Regions from separate parts of the Homo sapiens genome. Here all the other regions are linked to region 3. Evidence: fine-mapped expression QTL. Tissue or cell type: monocytes. Region 3 holds a variant in brackets; each other region holds the start of a gene. All regions are shown on one strand. Distances are between the middles of the regions. Region 1 holds the start of CDKN2AIP (CDKN2A interacting protein). Region 2 holds the start of ING2 (inhibitor of growth family member 2). Region 3 has its middle 22 kb from the start of CDKN2AIP.

Region 1 (8,180 bases), 22 kb after region 3:
GGCAACCCACTTACAGTATATGGATTTTAGCTTTGGTATCCAATTAAATATCCTCAAAAATGAATCATTTTTAAAGGTTATATGGTAAAATTAAAACATCTGATTATGTAATTATGTAATTCTAGCATAAAAAATTAAAGTATCTTTTTATTCCTAGAATACAAAATAGGAATAACTGCTACATACTTAAATTGTGCTTACGTTTGATTTTCCTATTCCAACACAACTGGCCCATGAAAGGTCTTTCTTTTCTCTCTATATTATCACCATTATTGCTCAATGGGCAGTATCTAAAAATAGAATCTAGAAAGCCAGAAACCACAAAAATAACATCTTGGGGCCAGTTTGAAGCAAAGTAAACAGAATATACAATGACAGACAAACAGGCAGAATCACCTAAGACGAAAACAAAATTCCACTTCATTTTAACGAATGTAGTTAAATTGAATAGGCTCATTATCAAGAGCTGAACACGGCTCTCTGTTCTTTCCGGTATTCTAAAAGATGCATAAACACAAAAACCATCCAGTTCTAGATTTGAAAATTGAAGGGAATCGCTTTTAATCTATTCTGGCTCAGGGGATTGCTGTAAAAAAAAAAATTAAATAAAGATGTATATCACACAATTACCTGGTTGTCTAATTTATAATGACAAGTCATGGGAAGCCTATTTGCAGGAATTGGTTCTGACTTGGAGAAAAAAAACACAACTTCTTGAAAAGGTAAAATAGCTTAAAGCATTTAATATCTAAACAAATCAATCTGTTAATAGTAGTCACAAAATATGCTTAATATAGAAACCCACATTCATGTTTTTAAGAAAAAAGTGTAAATTGTATTCCACCTCAAAACATAAATTAACCCGCTTAAAGAATCTTCAGCGGTCAAAGTCATGGTGAATTTTAAACAACTTCAGAGTAAAATAACAAGTACTTTATACTGCTTTATATCTAAAAAATGCTTACAACTTCTCATAAAAATAGTTTGAAGCAACTATTTTTTCTTTTATTTTTTAACAGACACGTTCAACATTACGGGCAACATTTTTAAAACCTTAAGCTTTACAGACTTTCAAACATTCAAATACTGTGGTCCCTTTCCTTTGATGTGGTTTATTCAGCTAGAAAAGAAAACATGGTAGACAACTTAATACATTTTCACCAAATTGAAAGTAGTACAAAAATTTTAGGACTCTACCGAACTACACATCGTACCTAATGTATCATTAAAAATAGAAGACAGTATTTTCTTCAGCAAATAAAACAGCATACTAATATGCTGCTAATGCATACCTTTTAATGTGTACTGTCATTCATAAATTATTTACAACTGCTACTGTGTGAAGAGAACTAGAATGTAAATTTTCTGCAAAACTGGAAAAAAAGCAATACAAAATTTGTGAAAGCCTGTGTTTTATACTATACAAAAGTCAGTTTTTCTCTTCAAATACCAGATATTGTATGCAGTGATATTTTGGACACATTATAGTAATTCTTGAGGATGTTTTAGTGCTGGAGGTAAGTTTACAGGCCTCGATTCTTCATCAAGGAGTACTAGATCTTCTATTTCACTGCCTCTGTATTTCCTTTTACATATTTTTACCACCACCTTTTTCTTGAGAAATAACTTCAATGCTTCTCTTGATGCAACTGCTTTTGCATTTTCTTTGCTTTTTCCACAGCCAGTGCCCAAATACACAGACTTGCACCTCAATTCACAAACAATACTTTCTTGAGAGCTCTTATTTTGAGGCAGATCTGCCAATTCTTTTAGTGGGACAAAAAATACATCCAGTGTTGCTTTCAGAGCCTCAATAGCTGCATTTAGGAGCTCTCCATGATTCACATTGGGACTAAAGCCACCAACAGCTACCAACTTCCATGCCACCGTTTTATATAGTCTATTGAAAAAAGGTTGCTTCTGTTTCACATCTTCATTGGTTAACTTGCAAGAGAATTTGACAGAACTCTCACTTGACTGTGAAGTACTTTTAGAAGGCAACTGTGAGGTGCTAGTCTGAGAACTACTCTTAGAAGCCAACTGGGACACACTTGCTAAGGAAGTGCTTTTGGAAACCAGAGATCCACTGGTCTGGGAGCTGCTCTTGGAAGCTAGTAGTGATGCAGCTACCTGGGAAGTGCTCTTGGAAGTTAGCAGCGATGTATTTGTTGAAGAGCTGCTCTTGGGAGTCAGTAAGGATGTGCCTGATGAGGAACTGTTTTTAGCAACTGATGATGAAACACTTGCCTCTGAACTAGTTTTGGAAGTTAACCCACTTGAAGCTGTCTCTGAACTAGGTTTGGAAGACAATAGTGGCAATTCTACCTCTGAGCTTCCTGAGGAGCCCAACAAGGGCACCTCGATCTCTGAGCTGCTTTGAGAAGCTGAGGCTGAAGAGCCTTCCAAAGCACTCTTTTTAGGTGATCCACTTTGTTGTCTAGAATCAGTGGATTGGGTCATGTGACTATTCACACTGGATTTCAGCAAGGAAACAAATGATGCAGAACCGTGTTTATCTGGAGCTTCTGCTTCAGAAGCTTTCCCAGATCCTGCCGTTGTTACCTGAGAGGAAACGCTGCTGCTGCTTTGGCTGGAAACAGATCGATCTCCATCACTTGTAGAGCTATTCTGACTGGAGATGCCAGAGCTCCGAGCTGAGTTCCCACTCTCTGATTTGATGGCCGACCCTATACACGTTGAACTGTTTTCCTGCTGAGCTGATGCACGTTCTGTCTTGGCAGAGGTTTTTGCGTGATCTTGCTCAACTGCAGAACTGTTTTTTCCTTCTATAACTCGTTTTTTGGATGGCTCTTCTACCCCTTCTAAAAAGAAGAAAAACATAGATATGTGACTAAGAATACCTCGTACAAAACGGGTGATGAGACAAATACACATTAAAATAAAGGCACAAAGTGAAAACATTTCAAGACTAATCGTTTCTTTAAAAAGTGTGGAGTCATTAATTTCTTAAAACAGTGTTGAATAACATCATGAATGTCTAATATTAAAAAAATAACAGCATCAGACAACAGTGGACACTTCAAAATCTAAAGCAGTCAAAGCAAACTATCAAATTCAAAGCCTAAAGACACAGATATATACTTTAGGTTTAACATTCCAACTTTATTACTTATTAATAACATAAAAATTCTGGCTTGTTAAAAAAATTAGTAACAATAATTCCTAATTATATCAAACTTATGCTCTAAACTCCTATGTATGTTCACATCTATGATCTGCTAACCATTGCTACTCGATATCCCTCTTTTCTTCACCTTGGCAACCAGTTCATCTCTTGTTGTATAGGTTGGAGCATCTGTCACTTTGATGCCTTCAGCCATACTAAGTATTTTATCCATAACTTTTTGAGGGTATCTGAAAAAGAAGGAAAAGTCATTTTTAAAAAGTGTTTTTTCTAAGGTCCTACTTGTGCAAAAAACAGGCCACAGGGACTGCATTTCCTGGCTGCAATCAAGAAAGTGAACCAACCGCCAAGAACTGTTTCCTGGAACCCCATAAACAAGTGCCCCAGGGTCTGGGAGGCAGGGCACCTCCTCACTAATCTTAAATCTCGCACCCGTCCCCAAGAGCGTTGTTCCCTAACACAAGCAACCCTACCAGCAGCTGCGCCCACACCACCGGGCACACAGACGTCCGGGAATCATGTCGGCTCCTCGCAGGGACGCCCTTCTCCCCCTTAGAGGGCAGCCGGGCCGGCGGATTCCCGCGCTTCACAACTTCCCCTCCCCGCCGAGGCCGGTCCCGCGGAGGGCGCCGGGCCCCGGTCTGCAGGTGGCACACAAAACGAGGCGTGCTGGTTAGGGACGCTGCCTCACTCACCGGCACCCGAGGAAGACGTGGTTCGCCCAGGCCATGGAAAAGGAGATGAGCTGCTGCAGCTGCCGGTTTCGGGTCCCGCTCTCGGCGTCGGCAGCTTCATCCGTGCTAGCGGAGGCAGCGCCGCCAGCGGGGGCCAGGTCCCCGGCGTTGCGAAGCAAAAAATCCCGGCGGTGGCGCCAGTGTTTGTCAGTCTCGCCGTCGCAGCGCAGCGCCTCCACCCAGGCTGCCACCCGCGGGTTCTGGCTCAGGTACTCCGACACCTCCTGCGCCATGTTGGGCCTGCAGGCCGCGAACACAGCTGCACCGGGAGACAGGCAGGACTAGCGGGGCGAGCGGCCCTGTCACTGCGGCCTGCACCCGCGGCCCTCCAGATAACGCCCCTCCGCAGGCCTAAAGACCAAACAACAGCGCCCAGAGCCGCCGAACCGCCCACTTCCGCCCACCGCCGGCTTCTTCCCTTTTATAACCTCGCCGCCGCCGCGCGCCCTCGCGTTCTTCCGGCGCGAGCCGGCGCTCCCAAGACGCTTTGCGGCGCCGGGGCCGCTGCGACGCTGCGTCCCCGTGAGGCCACGGAGGGCACCCCGGGGGTGAGGTGGGCGGGCGTCGGGCGTCTCCCGCCCCACGAGGGCGGACTGCAAGTCGAGCTGGCCTGGGACGACCGAGTCTCGGCGGAACCCCGGGCGTTCTGTCCTCGCTTTGTGACGCCGCGCGCTCCTGCCGTCCTCCTCCCCCGCCGGGTCAGCTGCGGCGCCGGGAGCAGAGGCGAGAGGGGCAGGGCCCGGGCAAGGGAGGCAGCCGGGCGCGGCGGCCAAAGTCCGCTAGGGGGGCGTCCCGGGGGACCTTGAGCCGCCCGCAGCCGCGGGGCCTGTGGTCTCCGCCCTGAGACGCCTGTGTGTGAGCGGGGCCAAAACAAACAAAAGCCGGCCTCCATGTTAGAGTGTTGGGAGCTGCGTCTCGCGCTGCTTTCAGTGTGCCCGAGCGAAGCGTTCCGAGGCCGTCGGGGTCTCCGCGCCTTCAGGAGGGCGGGAGTGCCAGTCCCCTTACATAGCAGCAGTAGACAGTAAGGTCACACGAGGACCTGGCTCCGTGTTGCCGTGAGGCTTGCAGCCTTCGAAGCTGGCCCTGGCCCCGCAGCGGTAGGGCTTGTTCCCGCAGTTTATTAGGTCTCTAGTTAATCCAGGCATTGCCTTCCTGTTCTGGTCAGTAGGAAAACAACACCCCGACAACGCTCTGTCTCTAGAATTTCCTAAAATCAACAGCTTTACCACCAACCGGCAGATGTCCGGAGGTGGAGTGGAAATGTACCTATTTATCTATAGGGCCCCAAACCTCTCTCCCTGTTAGAGCTGTTTTTTCCTTCTATATATTTTTTTCCACTTTACATTTCCCACAGTTACGTACTCTAACTGCTGGCTGGCTTATTGTTACGTTTCCCATTCCAGGTATACATGCACTGTAAGATAAATACGTTAAATGATATAAATTATGAAATTTTTCTTTCAATAAATGTAGACTTTGATGTAAAAATGCATGAATCAGAATAAGCAAGCAAAAAAAGGTCACTTTAGGTAAGATCAGATAAGGTTAACTGTGTAATTTATGTGCATGCTGGAACAAAATACAGCTATTGTATGAAAACAATATTGCCCATTTTCCTGCCATACCAAAAGAAACTACATAAAAACGGAGGCACAAAGAAATTTTGAAGCTTTGTGATTTTGCTTCTAGTTTGCTGTTCTTTCCTCCTTTTCACAGATAATTGCTGAAAATCTAGAGGGGGTGGACGGATTGCAGAAATCTGGCTATTTAAAAGGTGGAGAAATTACGATTTCTCCTTTCATGAATTCTTTGGCAAGGGGACCATGGCAAGTAAAAGAAGCTATGATCGCATACCTAGATTATATATGTGCATTTTAAATCAAGAATGTTCTCACGGCCAGGTGCAGTGGCTCACGCCTGTAATCCCAGCACCTTGGGAGGCCGAGGCGGACGAATCATGAGGTCAGGAGTTCGAGACCAGCCTGGCCAATGTAGTGAAACCCCATCTCTACTAAAAATACAAAAGTTAGCCAAGTGTGGTGGCACGTGCCTGTAGTCCCAGCTACTCTGTAGGCCGAGGCGGGAGAATCGCTTGAACTCAGGAGGCAGAGGTTGCAGTGAGCCGAGACCAAGCCATTGCACTCCAGCCTGGGTGACAGAGTGAGACTTCATCTCAAAAAATAATAATAATAATGTTCTCACTTTTTTTCTTGTTGCCCTGTAGTCTTCTTCCCACTCATGGGCTTCATTGCCTTGAAAGGAGAACAAGTAGAGCCTGAATTTCAAACAATTTTTTTAATTATAATAAAAGCGATAGAGTCTGAAAGATGGAGTACTTGTGCAAAAACCAGGTGCTTGGAATAAAAGATACATGCATTTTTCTTTTTTGATTCTTAAAAAGTTGACTTTGCATATAAAGATTCAAAGACTATGAACCACAAGTAGCTGGGACTGCAGGCGGGTACCACGACGACAGGCTAATTTTTTATTTTTTTGTAGAAACAAGGTTTCACTGTTGTCCAGGCTGGTTTTGAACTCCTAATATCAAGCAATTCTTCTGCCTCGGCCTCTCAAAGTGCTGGGATTATAGGCATGAGTCGCTGTGCCCGGCCTCATTTTTTTTTAAAGACCCTCCCACCTACAGAGACAAATTCCTCTCTAAGCTGGGGGAGACGTTCTGAGAGAAAAGGTGAGAGGAGAATTTAGGTGATAACTAGGAAAGTCTATGGGAGTAGGGAATAAGATGCAGGGTGGGAAGTGTTGGCTGTTAGAAATTGCTAGGTAGATTTTGGGTCTAAGAGCAGAAGGACTTGGCTCTGCCCGAGTTTCTGAGAGAAGACAGCCCAATCGTGCCCTGAGCCTGTATGCGTTGGCCTTTAGAAATGAACATAGAAAGGGCCTTTTATAGCTTTGATAACCAACTATACAACTCCCTCCTCTGCTCCTAACACACGTGTGTATATATATATACATATGTGTGTGTGTATATATACATAACACACACACACGCATTTACGCACATATATCTCACAGGGCCTAGAGGAGATCCAAAAGGTTCCCAAGAAAGAGTTGAATGGTGAAGTGCCTACCAAGCACCAGGGTCCAAGGTGAATGAGGCTAGGGGTGGTCAGCTTGTCAGCAAAGGGAGATGCAGCTAGTTTTCAGCAAGTCATCAGACCAGTGCCCGTCAGGCCGCATCAATAGGAGAGGACCCTCAACCTCTCCTGAAATGATCAGTGTGCATTGCTTGTGCTGGTAGATCAAGCAGTTATACTCCCAGCAGAGCCCACAGGGAAGAAAGCACAAGACAATGCTAGGATGATAACCAAGCCTCACCCCACCACTGCCCTCACTAGAAATCTACTCAGAGGAGAAAAGGGAGAGAATTCTAATGAATTGAGAAAGATCCACTATCATCCCAAATTGAGTTTCAAACAAGTGACTGAGTTCACAGGATTAAATTTTCTGCTGTAAGTGGAAGCCCATTCACTGAAACTGGTTCTGTAGCATATCTCTCTGAAGACATCCAATAAAAATTCCAGCGGCAAGCTGGCTTTTCTGCAGATGGCTTTCCCATGGAGCAACATGAAGGGATTGCCCCTGTTCCTGGATGTGACTGTGGAAGCAAGAAAGCCTTTGGCAGGAAGGTCTGCATGTGGAGAGGCTTGTGAGGAGCAAATACTCCAGTTATGGCCAAGGTTATGACTTGATGTGAGAAATACTTCATGGTGAGGGGAAATATTTTATGCTAATGATGTGTGAGGACACAAATCTGCCAAATTACAGTGATAAGGTGGGATGTTCTGAAAAAGTAAGAGAATGTTTTAAGAGTGATCCCCTCTGTTAGAAGCTTTGAGAAATCAAGTAGGATGAAGATAGGTAGTAACAGTCTGATTACGGACTGGAGCCACCTGTGAGCTTGGCAAAAGCCGTTTTTACTGCAGTGATGAAGACTCCATATCAGAGTGAGTTCAGGAGTCGGAAATGGAGATATTTGGCTGTAAAGGGGAGAAGATAGAGGAAGCTGGACAGGGTCATGGGGTCAAGGTGGCTTCAATTTCAGATGGGAGTAGCCTGAGCATGTTGCCCACTGCTTGAAGGCAACTCACAGAAAAGGAGAGTTTGAGGATCTGAAGAAAAAGAGGGTAATTAGCAATTTCTGCAGACATAGGTGTGGCTGGGATCCACACACAGGTGGAGAGATTAACCTTAGGTGGGCAGACACTTCCTCTGTTTTAAAAGAAGACGTTTGTAAGTTTGGAGCTGAGACGTTGACATGGAGGCCATCTGATGGTGCAGAG
Region 2 (8,180 bases), 38 kb before region 3:
CATGACTCCGGAGATATAGCTTCACTTTCACATCATACATTCTTAACAAAGAAGGCATAAGCAACTCTTAGCTTCCCATCATCTTACTTTTAATGGCTCTACTTTAGCCTCACATGGGAAATTCTGAAAATGAAACTATTTCCAGAGTAGGTTCTGGTTCTGGCATCAACTGACCAAACCACTAACAAAATTACAATAAAGTCAGCACTCGATCATTCTGCCTTTGTAGATAAATCAGTAGTTGGTTCTGAGCTTTCTGAACTGCTGATTTAGTTGTATGGCACGTGGAATACACTTACTTAAATCAAGTAAAAATAGCTGAGTCACTAGAAGGTATCCAAAAATCTGAAAATATAATTTCAGATGTCACCAAAAATTTACTTAAGATTAGTTTTGCTCGAATCCGTTTTATTTCTTATTCTTACAAGATGTAATGCTATCTCAAAGAGTTCTGTCCGCATGGTATTTTTCATACCACATGGCATACTAGTTTTATATTCCAATATTATAATTATTAAAAACAGAAATGTTAGGCAAGTAGATATATACATTGGGGCTGTCTGCAAGTAAGGCACACAAAAGCAAATATTCAACAGAACTCATTAATCAGCTTCTCCCTGGAAATCGCAGGTACTCGTACTTGATGTACAACTGTCTAACTTGGAATATATAACAAAGTGCCACCACACAGTTCAGAGTACTTACACCTGCATAGCATATTTTCGAACAAAGTTCATGTCTATTCCATTTGCTTAGCTCGGCATCTAAGCAGATTTCTTAAGAACCTCATTTCCCTACAGGAAAAATAAGGAAACTGGTTCCCTCAGACACATAAAAAATTGAGGATTAAAAAAAAAAGAGGCAAACCTCTTTTCAAATATTTTGTACCTAATAATCAGGTGTTAGAGGCTAAGTACAGTATATATCATACCAGCACATTGATAGATGAGATAAAAAATTTGTAAGATACCGTATTATATAGTGAAAGAAGACAAGAAATTAACATTTACTCAGCCCCTTCTATGTGGTAAAGATTTTCTCAGTTAATCTCCACAGCAACCCCATGAGGAAGCCATCACTTCTGCTTGTGAAAAAAACTGCAACTCAAGAGATAAGAACCCCAGACTTTGAACTGTGCCAGATCTGTATGTCTGACCTCGCAGTGTAAGCACTTTCTATAAACTATATGAAAGGCACTTGAAATTAAGTATCAAAGTTTAGTTTGAAGGTTGTTATTTATCTAAGAAATTATGAGTGGGAACACTAGAATAAAAATAAAGGTTCTCTAATAACCCTATCCCATAATAAGTACTTCAATTGTGAAATTGTTTTCTTCTTTATTTCTCATTTTATAAGTTTTTCAGCAGTTCTGAAAGTGTCTCAAGTAGGTTAGAAAGAAATTTGACTGCCTATATAATTTATATCACTAAATATTGCTAGAAATATTAGATCCAAAACCAGAAAATACTTAAGCACTAGTGAAGATATAAAAAACATGAAATCTGAACCCAAAATATACATAAACATAAAACTGTGAAAGTTGAGCTCAGTAACCACGTGCAGAGTGAAAACTAGATGAGTTTTTAATCACTAATCACAAACTTCATAGAGCTAAGAATTTGTATAATCTCTCAATCTTGTAAGGCCTACTATATTACTAATGTTACCAGAGCTATTAATACCTGACAATTATAGATGATCCGAAAGATTTCCCTGTCAACAAATTATAGTATCCCTCACCAACTTCAAATAGCTTAACTCTTGTGAAAGGAAACATGTGCCTTCAAAGAAATGTAAAAACCTGCAAGCTTGCTGGGCGCGGTGGCTCACGCCTGTAATCCCAGCACTTTCGGAGGCCGAGGCGGGCGGGTCCCCTGAGGTCAGGAGTTCAAGACCATCCTGGCCAACATGGTGAAACTCCGTCTCTACTAAAAATACAAAACTTAGCCCGGCGTGATGGCAGTTGCCTGTAATCCCAGCTACTCGGGAGGCTGAGGCAGGAGAATCGCTTGAACCCGGGAGGCAGAGGTTGCAGGGAGCTAAGATCGAGCCACTGCACTCCAGCCTAGGGGACAGAGCAAGGCTCTGTCTAAAACAACAACACAAACTACAAGCTTTACAAACTTTGGTGTTATCTGAAAAACTAGAAAGGTTCCATATACAATTATTAAGCACGTATCATTTTTAGGTTACCATTCATGTTTGTGCTCCATATCTGTAGAAATCCCCTTGGACAGTTTTTATTAAAACTTAAATTGTTTGAAAACAAAGATATGCATCTACAGTAGCAGGCTCTGGAGCCAAATATTCTACATCGAATTAACTGGACGAGTTACTTGAACTCTTTGTAATCTGTAAAAGAAATATTTATATAATGGTCTGGACCCAGCGCATCAGTTTTAATTCCCTCCCCACCCCCTCCCCAAACACGGATCAGTCCTATGAATCCTATGGATTCAGAAAACAGAAACAAATTTATAAACTAAAAAACATCAGACACTTATGTCACCCAAGAAGTGGATTCCTTAGAGACTTTTAAAGTATAGGATTACTGGCGTGTCTACAAAAACAGAGAATGGGTCCAGGAAATTATCTTTAAAGTTCGTATGGCTGTTTCCATACTATGTTCAAGGTCTGTTCCTCGATTCAAGGTTATTAAGCGCAACACATTTCCCCTTTTAAACTGCCCTCCTAGTAGCACCACCGATAGTAGGTGGTAACACTGTAAGGAAGGTCGATTCTGTCCCGGGTTCCCGGGTCGGCCGGCAAAGGGTGGTTTCGCCTCCACACTTAAAGTCGGAGAAGGAGGGGCTCGGGGACGCCAGGCGGTTGCCCAGTCAACCAACCCACTTCCTCCTGAAGCCCGGAAGTGACACATGTCCCGGAACCTACGCGGAGCCAGGATCCGCGACGGTCCGAGCTGCTGATCGCCGTCCTGATCCATTGACTGGGAAAGAGGTTGGAAACATCACCGCAAAACATGCTGCAAACCCCGATTCGGACTCCGCTGGGGCCGAACCAACGCCCCCGCACAGCCCCGACTCCCTCCCCAGCAGCCAGCTCGCCACCGCCCCTCTCGCGACCAGCCATTTTCCAGGCCCGCGGGAACGCGCGCCGCGCCCCTCCCACGCCCCTCGTCAAGCCCGCAGGCCCCGCCCCCGGCGCGGGGGCCCTCCCCGCCACACACGCCCCTCTCTTCCTCTCCCGCGGGGGACCCCTCCCCTCTTAACCATTTTGCCGAAAGAACTGGGCTAGGGCTACAACGCGGGGCGCCCGCGAACTTTCCCGGGGCGAGAGAGCGGAACGGACTGCTCTCCTCCGGGCCGGGGCAGGAGCGCGGAGGAAGGCCCCCTCAGTCCGCCTCCGCGGCCTCTCGCCCCCTCCCCCCGCACGTTCCAAAGCACCCGCACTCCGGGGTGGGGGCGAGTGAGGTGGGGAAGCGCGCCCCGCAGACCAGCGGGAGCCCGGCCGCTCACTCCCTCCGACCCTTGCCCGGCTGCAGTCCCGGGCCGGGGCCGCAGGGTCTGCGGCACGGGGCGGGCCAGCGCCTGAACAAATGCTTGCTGCTTAAAATGGCTGATTCCCCTCAGCGGCAGCTGCAGCCGCTGGGTCTGCAGCGGGGGCTGACAAGCGGCCCCCACCCCCACTCTGGGGACCCCAGAGAAGTACTCGCCCACCGCGGGGCCACGGAGGGCCGCCAACCCGGTCTCCAGTCCTCCCAGTCCCGCTCGGCAGACCCTCGGTGCGCTCGGGGAGACTGTCACGGGAGAAAGGGAAGGTGGCACTCCCCCGGACAGGCTCCCCGCCACCGGCTCCCGAGGCCGGCAGCCCCGCGGCTCCTACCTTGATATTTGTTGTCCAGCTCTCGCAGCACAGACACGTTCCTCTGCATGTCGTGGGGCAGCGACTCCACGCACTCAAGGTAGTCCTGCACGTAGCAGGTGAGCAGCCGGCTCCGCTCCCCGGTCAGGAGCGCGGCCGACGAGTACAGTTGCTGCTGCTGCTGCCCTAACATCCTGCCGATCCGCGCCGTCGCCGCCGCCTCCGCATCCAGCAGCCGCACATGCACCGGCCGCGGCCGCCGCGGGCCCTCAGCTCAGCAGCCCGGCGCCGCGGGGACCCCGCAGCCGCTCGAGAGGGCACGGCCGCGCTCCCCGATCTCCACTCCCCCCAGAGCAGCCCTCACTCCCCGCCCCCGCAGCACCAGCCCAGGGGCGGGGCGAAACCGGGGCTCCCTCCTTTCTCCCCTCCCGCTCCAGGACCGGAGCAGTGGGGATCCCCTCGGCGGGGCCGGCGCCGGGGTCCCGGGCGCTGACACTTCCTGTCCCCCTCGGAGTCCCCAGATGCTACGAGTGCCGTCTCGCAGCCCGGATCCCCATGACAAGCCCGTCGCCGCCCGCCTGTCCCCAGTCACCCTCCGTGCCTCACGGAGAGCCTCCCGCTAGCCTGCCCCCGCCCCTCCGCCCGCGGCCGCCTCTGCGCCTGCGCAGCGCTCCCTGCGAATAAGGCCGGGGCCCGCCCCTACCGCCTACCGGAGGGTTCGCATTCTCCCGCCTTCGCTCCGCCGCCCGGGCGATTGGTCTGCCGGCTCTGGGCTAGCGGGGGAGGGTGTGGGGGGCGGCCAAACGGCAGGCCGCGCCCCGCCCCCCTTAAAGGGGAAGCCCGGGGAGCCAGTCTCTGCGCCTCGCGTCTGAATGGGACCCGGGAGGGGAGGCGGCTCGGTCCTTCGTGCCGTCCTCCCCGCTGGGAGGGGCAGCTCCAGCTCCGCTCGGCTCGCTCCGCCCGGCCACACCGGCTTTTTCCCCATCAGGCGGTCCGAGTGCGGCTCCTCGCGAGCCTGCAAAGGAGCAGCAGGCGGTTCCTTTTCGGACGACCTGGAGCGAGGCCTGCGGGACTGCGCGCCCCGGCGGGCGGCGTGCGGCTCCCGGCATGCGCGGCGGCTGCGTTCCCGCCGCCTCCGAGCTCGCCTGGGGCTGCCGCCCGCCTCCTGCCGGGCCCTCGGGCTCGCCCGGCACCGCGGGGCTTGATCAGGGAGGTAGGCGGTGCTCCCTCCGGCCCCCGGCGTCGTGTGCCCTGCGGGTTTCGTGGCCCTTCCCCTACGCTGGAATCTTCTGTGTCATTTAGGGGGAGGGGATGCGGGACGGCATCTGTTTGACAACGCATTGGTCCCACAGACAGCCTTTAAAAACAACTGCTTTTGGGGGGTGTCAGAACATTTAAGCACAGGACGTCGGTGAGGCTTCCTGGCGGAGTGGGGCACACGCCAGCTTTACGGGACTTTTTGCTCAGTCCTGCCCCAGGACTGCAATCGGAGGGGACCTGGGGCATGGAGGAGACGCGAGTGAAAACCTAGTCAGCGGGCGGGCCCTCGGCCCCATAATCTACGTGATCTCCTAGTGGGGTTTAATTTCGGTGTAGTGTAAATGAGATGTCAGGCAGAGGAGCTGATTTTAATTACAGATGGACATTTTTGAAAGAAATGGGTGCAAATAGAATGAATGCATGGATAATTTTAATGGAATGCCTATGTAAACAAGGCCAATTGTGAGTACTACCTTTGAGTTAAAATGTGAGTGAGTGGTGACAAATTTGGATCTTCTTAGATCCAGTTTGCAGCGTTGGTACACCTGAATGGTGACCTATTTAGAGCACTTTTGAAACAGCTGTTAATAGTAACTAGCCTTTGACTTGCAAAGAGAAATCTAGATCTTTATCTAGAGGAAATTTTAAATTTCAAACCAAAATAAAGCACTCCAGGCAATTTGACATCTTGGGACGTCAACTATTTCAAAGGACTGGGAAATTGTCTTGGGTTATTATCCTAGGACACTGAGGTTTGGGCCAGTATTAAGCAACCCAGACAGTACAGTGGATAGTATTTCTGAGAACATTCTGGGATTTTACTGTTCGTGAAATCTTTCGGCCGGGTCTTGTCAAAAAACCGCCACTGTGAAGAACTGAATTTTACTGGTTTTTACTTGAACCCTGCTATTTTTGTTTTCTCACAAGTTTGAATAAGCTGGTCTTTATCAAAGGCGCAAAATAATGTGGGGTGCCTTGTTACAGGTCAGACACCGAATGTACCTATGGATTTTATTCAGTCTGATAAGTGATCTGCAAGTAGATAAGAAATGTGTTTAGAAACTAGAAGGGGAAAAAGGCAAAGATGCAGAATACCTAGAGTACTCCAGAAACAGAGCAAGATGAGAGGAGGGATGAGCATGGGATAGGAGACATTTATAGCATTATTGTCACCTTTTATAATTCTGTTGAACAGGCTGGTAAAAAAGCAAAAACAATCCAAAGAATATTTTAGCTGGTACTGATCTAAAACTGTAAAACACTGTAATATGATAATATATGTATATGTATGAATTATTTTAGGCATGCTTTTCTTGCTATATTTATTTTAAGAGATTAATCTACGGCTTATTCTTGCCACCCCCAAAAAAAATCGCCACAAACCCTAAACCCAACTCTTGACCTTGGTTATTGAGCGCTGTCCTTCCCTTCTGAGTGGTCACTTAACTGGAAATATGGGGCCTCTTCAGATTGAATTTCTTGTCTTCTAAATGCAAAATTTAAAATCTCCCGTTCTCAGCAACTAGAAATTAATTTATGGTATTTAATCCTGTGAATAAAGCAAAAAGGCATTTTATTTGCTCTACAGTGTATTATCTACCATAAAGCAACCCTAAAAAAAAGATAAGTAACTGATCTCCCCAAATTAGTCTGGGATTACCTTGAATTTCTAAGTCTGACTTTAAGAGGTCCCTGGCAGGAAATGTGTACGCCTCCGTACCTGTCTCTTGGGGAGAGCAACAACTTCAAACTGGTTGAAAACAAACTGGCAAGTAATGGTGAAAGATTCCTAAAGATGCCTGCTGAGAAAATTCAGCTTCTGTTTGAGTCAGATCAAATAAATGAAATCCTTTTCTTTTTTCTACTTTTTAATATTTTTAAACTTTTATGGAAATTTTCAAAGGCAAAAGTAATACTACAATAAATCCTTATATACCGTCTACCCAGCTTCAACATTTAGCAACATATGGCTAAGATTATTTAATCTATAGCCCTTCACATTCCCTCACTCTTGCTGGATTTTTATCATTTTATCTGTAAATACTTTAAATATGAATAATATGAATAGGTAAAATATAATAGTTGTTTTTTGTTTGTTTGTTTTTGAGACTGAGACTTGCTTTTGTCGCCCAGGCTGGAGTGCAATGGGGCGATCTTGGCTCTTTGCAACCTCCGCCTCCCAGGTTCAAGCGATTCTCCTGCTTCAGCCTCCCAAGTAGCTGAGATTACAGGTATGTGTCACCATGCCCAGCTAATTTTTGTATTTTTAGTAGAGAGGGGGTTTCACCATGTTGGTTAAAGCTGGTGTGGAACTCCTGACCTCCAGAGATCCGCCCGCCTTGGCCTGCCAAAGTGCTGGGATTACAGACGTGAGCCACCATGCCTGGCCAAGATAACAGTTTTTTAAGCATATCCGTAATACCATGTATTCTGCCTCCCCAAATTTTCTTACTATCATTTAATAACTACACAATTCAAATTTTCCTATTGTCTCAGTAAATCTTTCACATTTGGTTTAACAGGATCCAGCAAATCCCATGCATTTTATTTGGTTACTGAGGTCTTTTCCAAACCAGTAAGAGGCAGTTAATTCCCTGTTTAATTCAGTGAAGCAGAGAGCAATGTTTTTCTGAGGAAGATATTTAAGTAGTTTAAAATCACTGCTTTAAATATGGAGAAATTCAAGAAGAAATCCTCATATGAAAAGTCACCAATTGATAGCGTGTTGTAAGAAATGTAATTGTACCTGATGCAAATAAATAAATCCTTAGTAATCTAGGAGGCTGTGTTAGAGTGTAATTTGTTCTAGAAGGTCCAGTGAAGCATCTTAAATTATAGTGAAAAACCCTAAAACTTTAAATCAATTCATTAGTACAAAAAGCAACTAAAGAAAAACCTAATAGTCCTGTAATCCCAGCACTTTGGGAGGCCGAGGCGGGCGGATCACGAGGTCAGGAGATCAAGACCATCCTGGCTAACACGGTGAAACCCCGTCTCTACTAAAAATGCAAAAAATCAGCTGGGCGTAGTGGCGGGCACCTGTAGTCCCAGCTACTGGGGAGGCTGAGGCAGGAGAATGGCATGAACCCGGGAGGCGG
Region 3 (8,180 bases):
TACCTTTGTCCAGGTTTTCTTAGTTTTTAAAGCGTACTCAAGTGAACTGGGCTTTTTAAAATGTAGTTTCTCATGTTTGAGAATCACTCAGAACTTTGGTCACTTCACCTCCAAGAGTTTTTTACTTCAATACCTTTCTATAAAGAAAGTAGTGTGTTGTGACTTTGTCAGAATTTTCTTTCTTTACAAGAGGTGAAAATTCTTTTTTTTTTTTTTTTTTTTTTTGAGATGGAGTCTTGCTCTGTCACCCAGGCTGGAGTGCAGTGGTGTAATCTCATCTCACTGCACCTTCTGCCTCCCAGGTTCAAGTGATTCTCCTTCCTTAGCCTCCAGAGTAGCTGAGATTACAGGCGCCCGTCACCACGCCCAGCTAATTTTTGTATTTTTAGTAAAGACAGGTTTTCACCATGTTGGTCAGGCTGGTTTCAAACTCCTGACTTAGGTGATCTGCCCGCCTTGGCCTCCCAAAGTGCTAGGATTATAGACGTGAGCCACCACACCCAGCCAAGAGGTGAAAATTCTTATGGAACCATCCATGCGTGGGACCCTATGGTCCAGATTGTGAGCATGGTTCCTCCAAGACAGAGCTTTTGTTTCCAGGTAGGAAGACAGAACCTTAAATGTGTCTTGGCCTTGAGGTGAATTTTTACAGCAGGAAGGTTTCTTGAGATTCATCATTACTTACAGATCTTCCCAGTGCTACCCAGTGATATTTATTGGTAACGTCTGTTGACTCATCAACCTGAATAAGGAAGCTATTGTTTTCCAGTTCATTACGCAAAATTCTTCAGCATCACAGGAAAGGAATATAAACTTTTTCCTCTGCTCCTTTAGGTTCATTGTCTGGGGCACTGAAGATTAGACTGATGAAAGACAGATTAACAGGAGAAAAGACATACAAATTTTATTTGATCTTAATCTTTATATATAAGGGCCTTCCTGGAAAAGAAGTGAAGAGCCAAATAAGCAGATAGATCTGAGAGCTTATATACCATCTTCAACAAAGAGCAATAAATTGTGGAAAAGTGACAAGACAAAGGACTTTTTTTTAAGAGAGATGGGGTCTTGCTATGTTGCCCAGGTTGGCCTGGAACTCCTGGCTTCAAGCAATCCTCCCACCTCAGTCCTGAGTAGTTGTGACTACAGGTATAGCCACCACACCAGCAGGAAAAGGGTTTTAAGCTTCTAGGGGCTGCCCTCTGTGGGATCATAGACATATGGGGAAAGTAATGGAAGATAAGGGTTAATTTAGTAAGGTTGGTTTGTGCAGGTCCATCTTGGTGCCAACTTTCTGTTTTCTTCATGGTCATAAAATGTCCCTGGGAGAGGAGATTTATGGCAGTTCTCATTTCTCAGGCATTTCTGCTTTTAGTCAGATAGGGAAAGCCCCAGGAAGGTTCTCTTTGCATCTGCTAATTCTCAAATGCCTTCAGCTCAAAATAATTCATATGCCACAGTGGCATATTTTGGGGTAGCATATTCCAATCCTCTTCCACATCATGTGACATGTCATCACTATGTTGAGCTATACTGTTGAAAGTGGAACCTTGTCAACTTCTTATACTGCATCTTATCTTGTCGTTTTACTCACTGTAATTTTACATGCTGGCCTAATGAGATTCTCACCAATGGTGTGACTTTTCCTTTTTTGAGCAATTAGTCCAGCTAGTAAATAAGTTGCTGTAAGCCTTTCCACTGAATGTGATTATCTTTTCTTTTCATTCTTTCTTTCTTTCTTTTTTTTTCTTGCGAGAGCTTTCCCTGTTTGGAATTTCCAATAGTCATTTAAAAAACATCAGCACTTTTACTATTAAATGGCTGTGATTTGTAGGTAGGTTCTTTTCCAATTTTTTGGAGCCACTGCTGTATTTGTAAGATGACACTCAACATATAACAGACTAGGCCAACTTGAATTACCAGACCACCTAAAACTCATCAACAAGTAACTTTGATTGTTACTTTTTGGTGCATCCTTAATCATATTAATGCTGAATCATGAAATGACTCAGAAGGTTGTAATTAGCTTTAATCAGAATTATTCACAGGTATAAGCCTATGAATACTGCTCTTCCATTTAGTATATTTTCCTTAAAAACTGCTACATTTAACCATCAGACTTTAAAAAACACCAACAAACATGAACAGAGGGCATAATAAATATTAGACGAGAATTGCAAGCAAAAGTTAATAAGTAATAATACAGTTCACTTCTACCCTGCACAATCCATGTGTTGCAATGTTTACAGCAGCAAAACAACAGGAATGGGCAGCTGAGTCACAGTGCATTAAAATTCTTCTTTTAGAATGAAACTTTCACTCCAGTTTTCCAACGGCGAGAGCTTATTTACTGCTGTCAGTCATGGCATCCGAGAGGAGATTGGGGGACTGAGGTGATTCGGTATGCAGAGGGTGATGTCTCAGCCCACTGTGGCACATGCATTCTGGAACTCCTCTGTCCCATAGAGACTTCAAACATTTATTGTCCACCCCCCACACTGGAACATAAGGTTTGGTGATGTGCAAAAGCAGGTCATCCCTGTCCACAAACACTTAACGCTTAGTGTACTTGTGTATTTTAAACTTGATTCTTTAAAATGCTACAATTTTCTATCCACAAAGACGGATACTCTGTCAAAGGATTTTGCCTTGCAGATTTTTTCTATGTAAACAGATATATTAGTCTGTTTTCACACTGCTGAAAAAACATACCCAAGACTGGGAAGAAAAAGGCTTAATTGGACTTACAGTTCCACATGGCTGGGGAGGCCTCAGAATCATGGCAGGAGGCAAAAGGCACTTCTTACATGGTGGCGGCAAGAGAAGATGAGGAAGAAGCAAAAGCAGAAACCCCTGATAAACCCATCAGATCTCATGAGACTTATTCATTATCATGAGAATAGCATGGGAAATACCGGTCCCCATGATTCAATTACCTCTCCCTGGGTCCCTCCCACAACATGTGGGAATTCTGGGAGATACAATTCAAGTTGAGATTTGGGTGGGGACACAGCCAAACCATATCATTCTTCCCCTGGCCCCTCCAAATTTCTGTCCTCACATTTCAAAACCAATCATGCCCTCCCAACAACCCCCCAAAGTCTTAACTCATTTCAGCATTAACCCAAAAGTCCACAGTCCAAAGTCTCACCTGAGACAAGGCAAGTCTCTTCCACCTATGAGCCTGTAAAATCAAAAGCAAGCTAGTTACTTTCTAGATACAATGAGGGTATAGGTATCAGATAAATAGAGTCATTCCAAATGGGAGAGACTGGTCAAAACAAAGGGGTTCCTGGGCCCGTGCAAGTCCAAAATCCAGCAGGCAGTCTAATTTTGAAGGTCCAAAATGATCTCCTATGACTCCAAGTCTCACATCCAGGTCACGCTGATGCAAGAGATGGATTCCCATGGTCTTGGACAGCTCCACCCCTGTGGCTTTGCAGGGTACATCCTCCCTCCCAGCTGCTTTCATGGGCTGGCATTGAGTGTCTGTGGCTTTTCCAGGTGCACAGCGCAAGTTGTCAGTAGATCTACCATTCTGGGCCCTGGAGGATGGTGGCTCTCTTTTCACAGCTTTGCTAGGCAGTGCCCCAGGAGGGAGTCTGTGTGGAGGCTCTGACCTCACATTTCCCTTCTGCATTGCCCTAGCGAGGTTCTCCATGAGGACCCCACCACTGCAGCAAACTTTTGCTTGGGCATCTGGGCATTTCCATATATCTTCTGAAATCTAGGCAGAGGTTGCCAAACAATTCTTGACTTCTGTGCACTTGCAGGCTCAACACCATGTGGAAGTTGCCAAGGCTTGGGGCTTCCACCCTCTGAAGCCACAGCCCGAGCTGTGTGTTCGCCCCTTTCAGCCACAGCTGGAGGGGCTGGGACGCACAGCACTGAGTCCCTAGGCTTCACACAGCACAGGGACCCTGGCCCTGGCCCACAAAACCACTTTTTCCTCCAGGGTCTCTGGGCCCGTGATGGGAGGGGCTGCCATGAAGGTCTCTGACATGGCCTGGAGACATTTTTCCCATGGTCTTGGGGATTAATATTAGGCTCCTTGCTACTTACACAAATTTCTGCAGCTGCACTGAATTTCTCCCGAGAAAATTTTTTTTTTTCCTATTGCATAGTCAGGCTGCAAATTTTCTGAACTTTTATGCTCTGCTTCCCTTACAAAACTGAATACCTTTAGCAGTACCCAAGTCACCTCTTGAATACTTTGCTGCTTGGAAATTTCTTCCAGATACCCTAAATCATCTTTCTCAAGTTCAAAGTTCCACAAATCTCTAGGGCAGGGGCAAAATGCTGTCAGTCTCTTTGCTAAAACATAACAAGAGTCACCTTTGCTCCAGTTCCCAACAAGTTCCTTATCTCCATCTGACACCACCTCAGCCTGGATCTTATTGTCTATATCGCTATCAGCATTTTGGAAAAAGCCATTCAACAAGTCTCTAGGAGGTTCCAAACTTTCCCACATTTTCCTGTCTTCTTGTGAGCCCTCCAACCTGTTCCAACCTCTGCTTGTTACCCAGTTCCAAAGTCGCTTCCACATTTTCAGGTATCTTTTCAGCAACACCCCACTCTAATGGTACCAATTTACTGTATTAGTCTGTTTTCATACTGCTGATAAAGACATATCTGAGACTGGGAAGAAAAAGAGGTTTAATTGGACTTACAGTTCCATGTGGGCTGGGGAGGCCTCAGAATCATGGGGGGAGGTGAAATTCACTTCTTACATGGCAGCACCAAGAGAAAATGAGGAAGAAGCAAAAGC[G/A]GAAACCCCTGATAAACCCATCAGATCTTGTGAGACTTATTCACTATCACAAAAATAGCAAGGGAAAGACTGGCCTGCATGATTCAATCACCCCCCCTCCGCCGGGTCCCTCTCACAACATGTGGGAATTCCGGGAGATACAATTCACATTAAGATCTCGGTAGGGACACAACCAAAACATATCAGCATAGTAATTGGTATTTTCCTTTAATGGCTTCTGAATTTTGTGTCAAAGTTAGAAAGCACCAGCCCCCACCCCACACCATACTTCAAGATTAATTTGCTCATGTTAGTACTTTCATAGTTTTACACTTTATATTTAAGTCTTTGAATTTATCTTGGTGTAAGTTGGAGAGCAGAGATGGATCTTAATTTCATTTCCAATTTGCTACTTAATTTAGTTTTTGATTAAGCTATCTTTCTCCCACTAGTTCAAAATGCTGCTTTTATCATATTTTATATTCCCTAGAAAATTTGACTGATTTCTGAACTTTCTATTTTCTCCCATTTATCTCCTATCTTGTTATGCTCCACTACTATACAATTTTAACTTTTATGACTCCAAGGGTTAAAATATGTTTTTATTTATAGGGTTAAAATATGTTTTAATATCAGGTAGGGATAATACCCCTTCATTATTCTTTTTTTTTCTGAGTTTTCCTGACTACTTATATTTTTTTTCCTACAAACTTTTGAATCAGCTTATCTAGTATACAAATCCTCTTGGTATTTTTCTTGGGATCATGTTAAAATATAGATAAACAAACATAACTATTACACTTATGAAGTTAATTTTTGTATCTAAGAGCTTTATGTGTTTTCCTGTTTGTTGAAAAATTCCTTCTTGTCCCTTAGTATTTCAATGTTTTCTGCATGCAGATTTTAAATGCTTCTTTATCACTAAATAGTTTATTTTCTGTTGCTATTGTAAATAAGGTCTTCTCTATTATGTCTTCTGGTTGGTTATTTTTATATTCTAAAGCACCAGATTTGTATTGGTATTTGGCATTAATTTCATACCCAGGTACTTGACTGAATTCACTTATTTATTTAGATTTTTAAATTGATTATGGGTGGAAATTCTAGTATACAATTATATCTAAATAACAATGATTTTACCTTCTTTCCAATGTTTAAACATATATTTCTCTCATTGAATTTTTTTTTTTTTAAGACAGAATTTCGCTCTTGTCGCACAGCTGGAGTGCAATGGCAGGCTGGAGTGCAATGGCACCGTCTCAGCTCACTGCAACCTCCACCTCCCAGATTCAAGCAATTCTCCTGCCTCAGCCTCCCAAATAGCTGGGATTATAGGCATCCACCACCATGCCTGGGTAATTTTTGTATTTTAGTAGAGACGGGGTTTCACCATGTTGACCAGGCTGGTTTTCTCTCATTTAATTATATTGCTTTGTAGCAGGATGGGCTGCAGGCAAAACTCCTCAGACACCGGCTGAAAGAGGGAAGAGGCTTTATTTAGCTGGGAACCTTGGCAGACTTGCATCTCAAGAACCAAGCTCCCTGAAGAAAAAATTCCTGGCCTTTTTGAGAGGTGAAGCGAGCTGGACTTCCTGGGTTGAGTGGGGACTTGCAGAACTTTTCTGTCTAGCTAGAGGATTGCAAACGCACCAGTCAGCACTCTGTGTCTAGCTAAAGGATTGTAAACACACCAATCAGCACTGTGTAAAAATGCACCAGTCAGCGCTCTGTGTCTAGCTAAAGGACTGTAGACGCACCAATCAGCACTCTGTAAAAATGCACCAATCAGCACTCTGTGTCTAGCTAAAGGATTGTAAACGCACCAATCAGCACTCTATAAAAGCGCACCAATCAGCGCACTGTGTCTAGCTAAAGGATTGTAAACGCACCAATCAGCATTCTGTGTCTAGCTAAAGGATTGTAAACGCACCAATCAGCACTCTGTAAAAATGCACCAATCAGCACTTGGCATCTAGCTAAAGGATTGTAAGTGCACCAATCAACACTCCGCAAAAACACACCAATCATCACTCTGTGTCTAACTAAGGGATTAAATGCACCAATCAGAACTCTGTAAAAATGCACCAGTCAGCACTCTGTAAAATGGACCAATCAGCACTCTGTAAAATGGACCAATCAGCAGGACATGGGTGGGGACAAATAAGGGAATAAAAGCTGGCCACCCCCCAGCCAGCAGCGGCAACCTGCTCAGGTCCCTTTCCACTCTGTGGAAGCTTTGTTCTTTCGCTTTTCACAGTAAATCTTGCTGCTGCTGACTCTTTGGGTCCACACCACCTTTAAAAGTTGTAACACTCGCTGTGAAGGTCCGCAGCTTCATTCTCGAAGTCAGTGAGACCAAGAATCCACCAGAGGGAACCAAGTCTGGACACACTTTTAAGGGCTTACAACTCTATGGGGGTCTACGTGAAAGATATCCAGCAAGTGATCTATAGGTAATACACGTAGTTAGAGTGGGGGGTTAATCTTTAACCTCAGGCCTGGTCAGTGGCACCGGTTGGTCTTGCCACTGACTTCATTTCTGTTGTTTTTCAGCTTTTACTTCCTCCTTCTCTTCAGGGACAGGAAACAGTAAGAGAAATGGCGTATCTCCTCAGCTTAAGATAGTACTTGCCAGGCAGGGTGGCTCACACCTGTAATCCCAGCACTTTGGGAGGCTGAGGTGGGTGGATCATGAGGACAGGAGTTCAAGACCATCCCGACCAACATGGTGAAAACCCCATCTCTACTAAAAATACAAACATTAGGTGGGCGTGGTGGCACGCGCATGTAATCCCAGCTACTCAGGAGGCTGAGGCAGGAGAATTGCTTGAACCTGGGAGGCGAAGGTTGTAGTGAGCCGAGATCGCGGCATTGCACTCCAGCCTGGGCAACAGAACAAGACTCCATCCCCCCACCAAAAAAAAAGTGCTTATCTTGTCCATAACTTAGCAGGAGTGTTTCAATATTACATCCACGCTGTTTCCATATTAAACAGATTCTTTGTGGTTGAGATAAATATATTTCATTATGCTAACAACGTATTTGTATACTCCTGTTAAGAACTTACATCAAGTATGAATATGGAATTTTTCCAATGTCTTTGATAGCTTTTTTAGACATGAGTAGTTATGTGCTGCATGACGATGTTTTGGTAACAATGGACCATGTATACCGTGGTGGTCCCATAAGATTATAATGGAGCTGAAAAACTCCTATCACCTAGTGCTATCATAGCCATCATAACACAATGCATTACTCACGTGTTTGTGAAGATGTTGGTGTAAAGAAACCTACAGAACTGCCGGTCATCTAAAAGTATAGCACATACAATCATGCACAGCACATAATGAAAGGCTTGATAATAAAGGGATATGTTATTGGCTTATGTATTTACTATCCTATATTTTTCATTGTTATTTTTGAGTGTACTCCTGCT

The links. PIP is the estimated chance that this variant, and not a neighbour inherited with it, causes the effect.
Region 1: CDKN2AIP starts here. The variant in region 3 is fine-mapped to the expression of CDKN2AIP in monocytes (TOPMed, PIP above 0.99). The same link has a PIP of 0.9 or more in blood mononuclear cells, macrophages after interferon gamma, monocytes after LPS, monocytes after Pam3CSK4, monocytes after R848 and monocytes after interferon gamma.
Region 2: ING2 starts here. The variant in region 3 is fine-mapped to the expression of ING2 in monocytes (Quach 2016, PIP 0.95). The same link has a PIP of 0.9 or more in monocytes after LPS, monocytes after Pam3CSK4 and monocytes after R848.

The regions. Positions count from the first base shown.
Region 1 is chr4:183,440,730-183,448,909 of GRCh38, reverse strand. It overlaps CDKN2AIP (CDKN2A interacting protein), which reads right to left and starts at 4,274. Exons shown (of 3, transcript NM_017632.4): 1 at 3,841-4,274; 2 at 3,245-3,375; 3 at 1-2,822. The coding sequence starts at 4,112. The coding sequence ends at 1,483. RefSeq lists an enhancer at 3,820-3,969 and a silencer at 4,250-4,799.
Region 2 is chr4:183,501,031-183,509,210 of GRCh38, reverse strand. It overlaps ING2 (inhibitor of growth family member 2), which reads right to left and starts at 4,153. Exons shown (of 2, transcript NM_001564.4): 1 at 3,844-4,153. The coding sequence starts at 4,015. ING2-DT (ING2 divergent transcript) reads left to right here and starts at 4,696. Exons shown (of 3, transcript NR_033995.2): 1 at 4,696-5,035. RefSeq lists an enhancer at 1-66 and silencers at 2,802-2,851, 3,092-3,811, 4,032-5,071.
Region 3 is chr4:183,462,697-183,470,876 of GRCh38, reverse strand. No RefSeq gene overlaps it. Among named protein-coding and RNA genes, the nearest start is that of CDKN2AIP, 22 kb to the right of the region's middle. The variant G/A (reference allele first, on the strand shown) is at 4,766.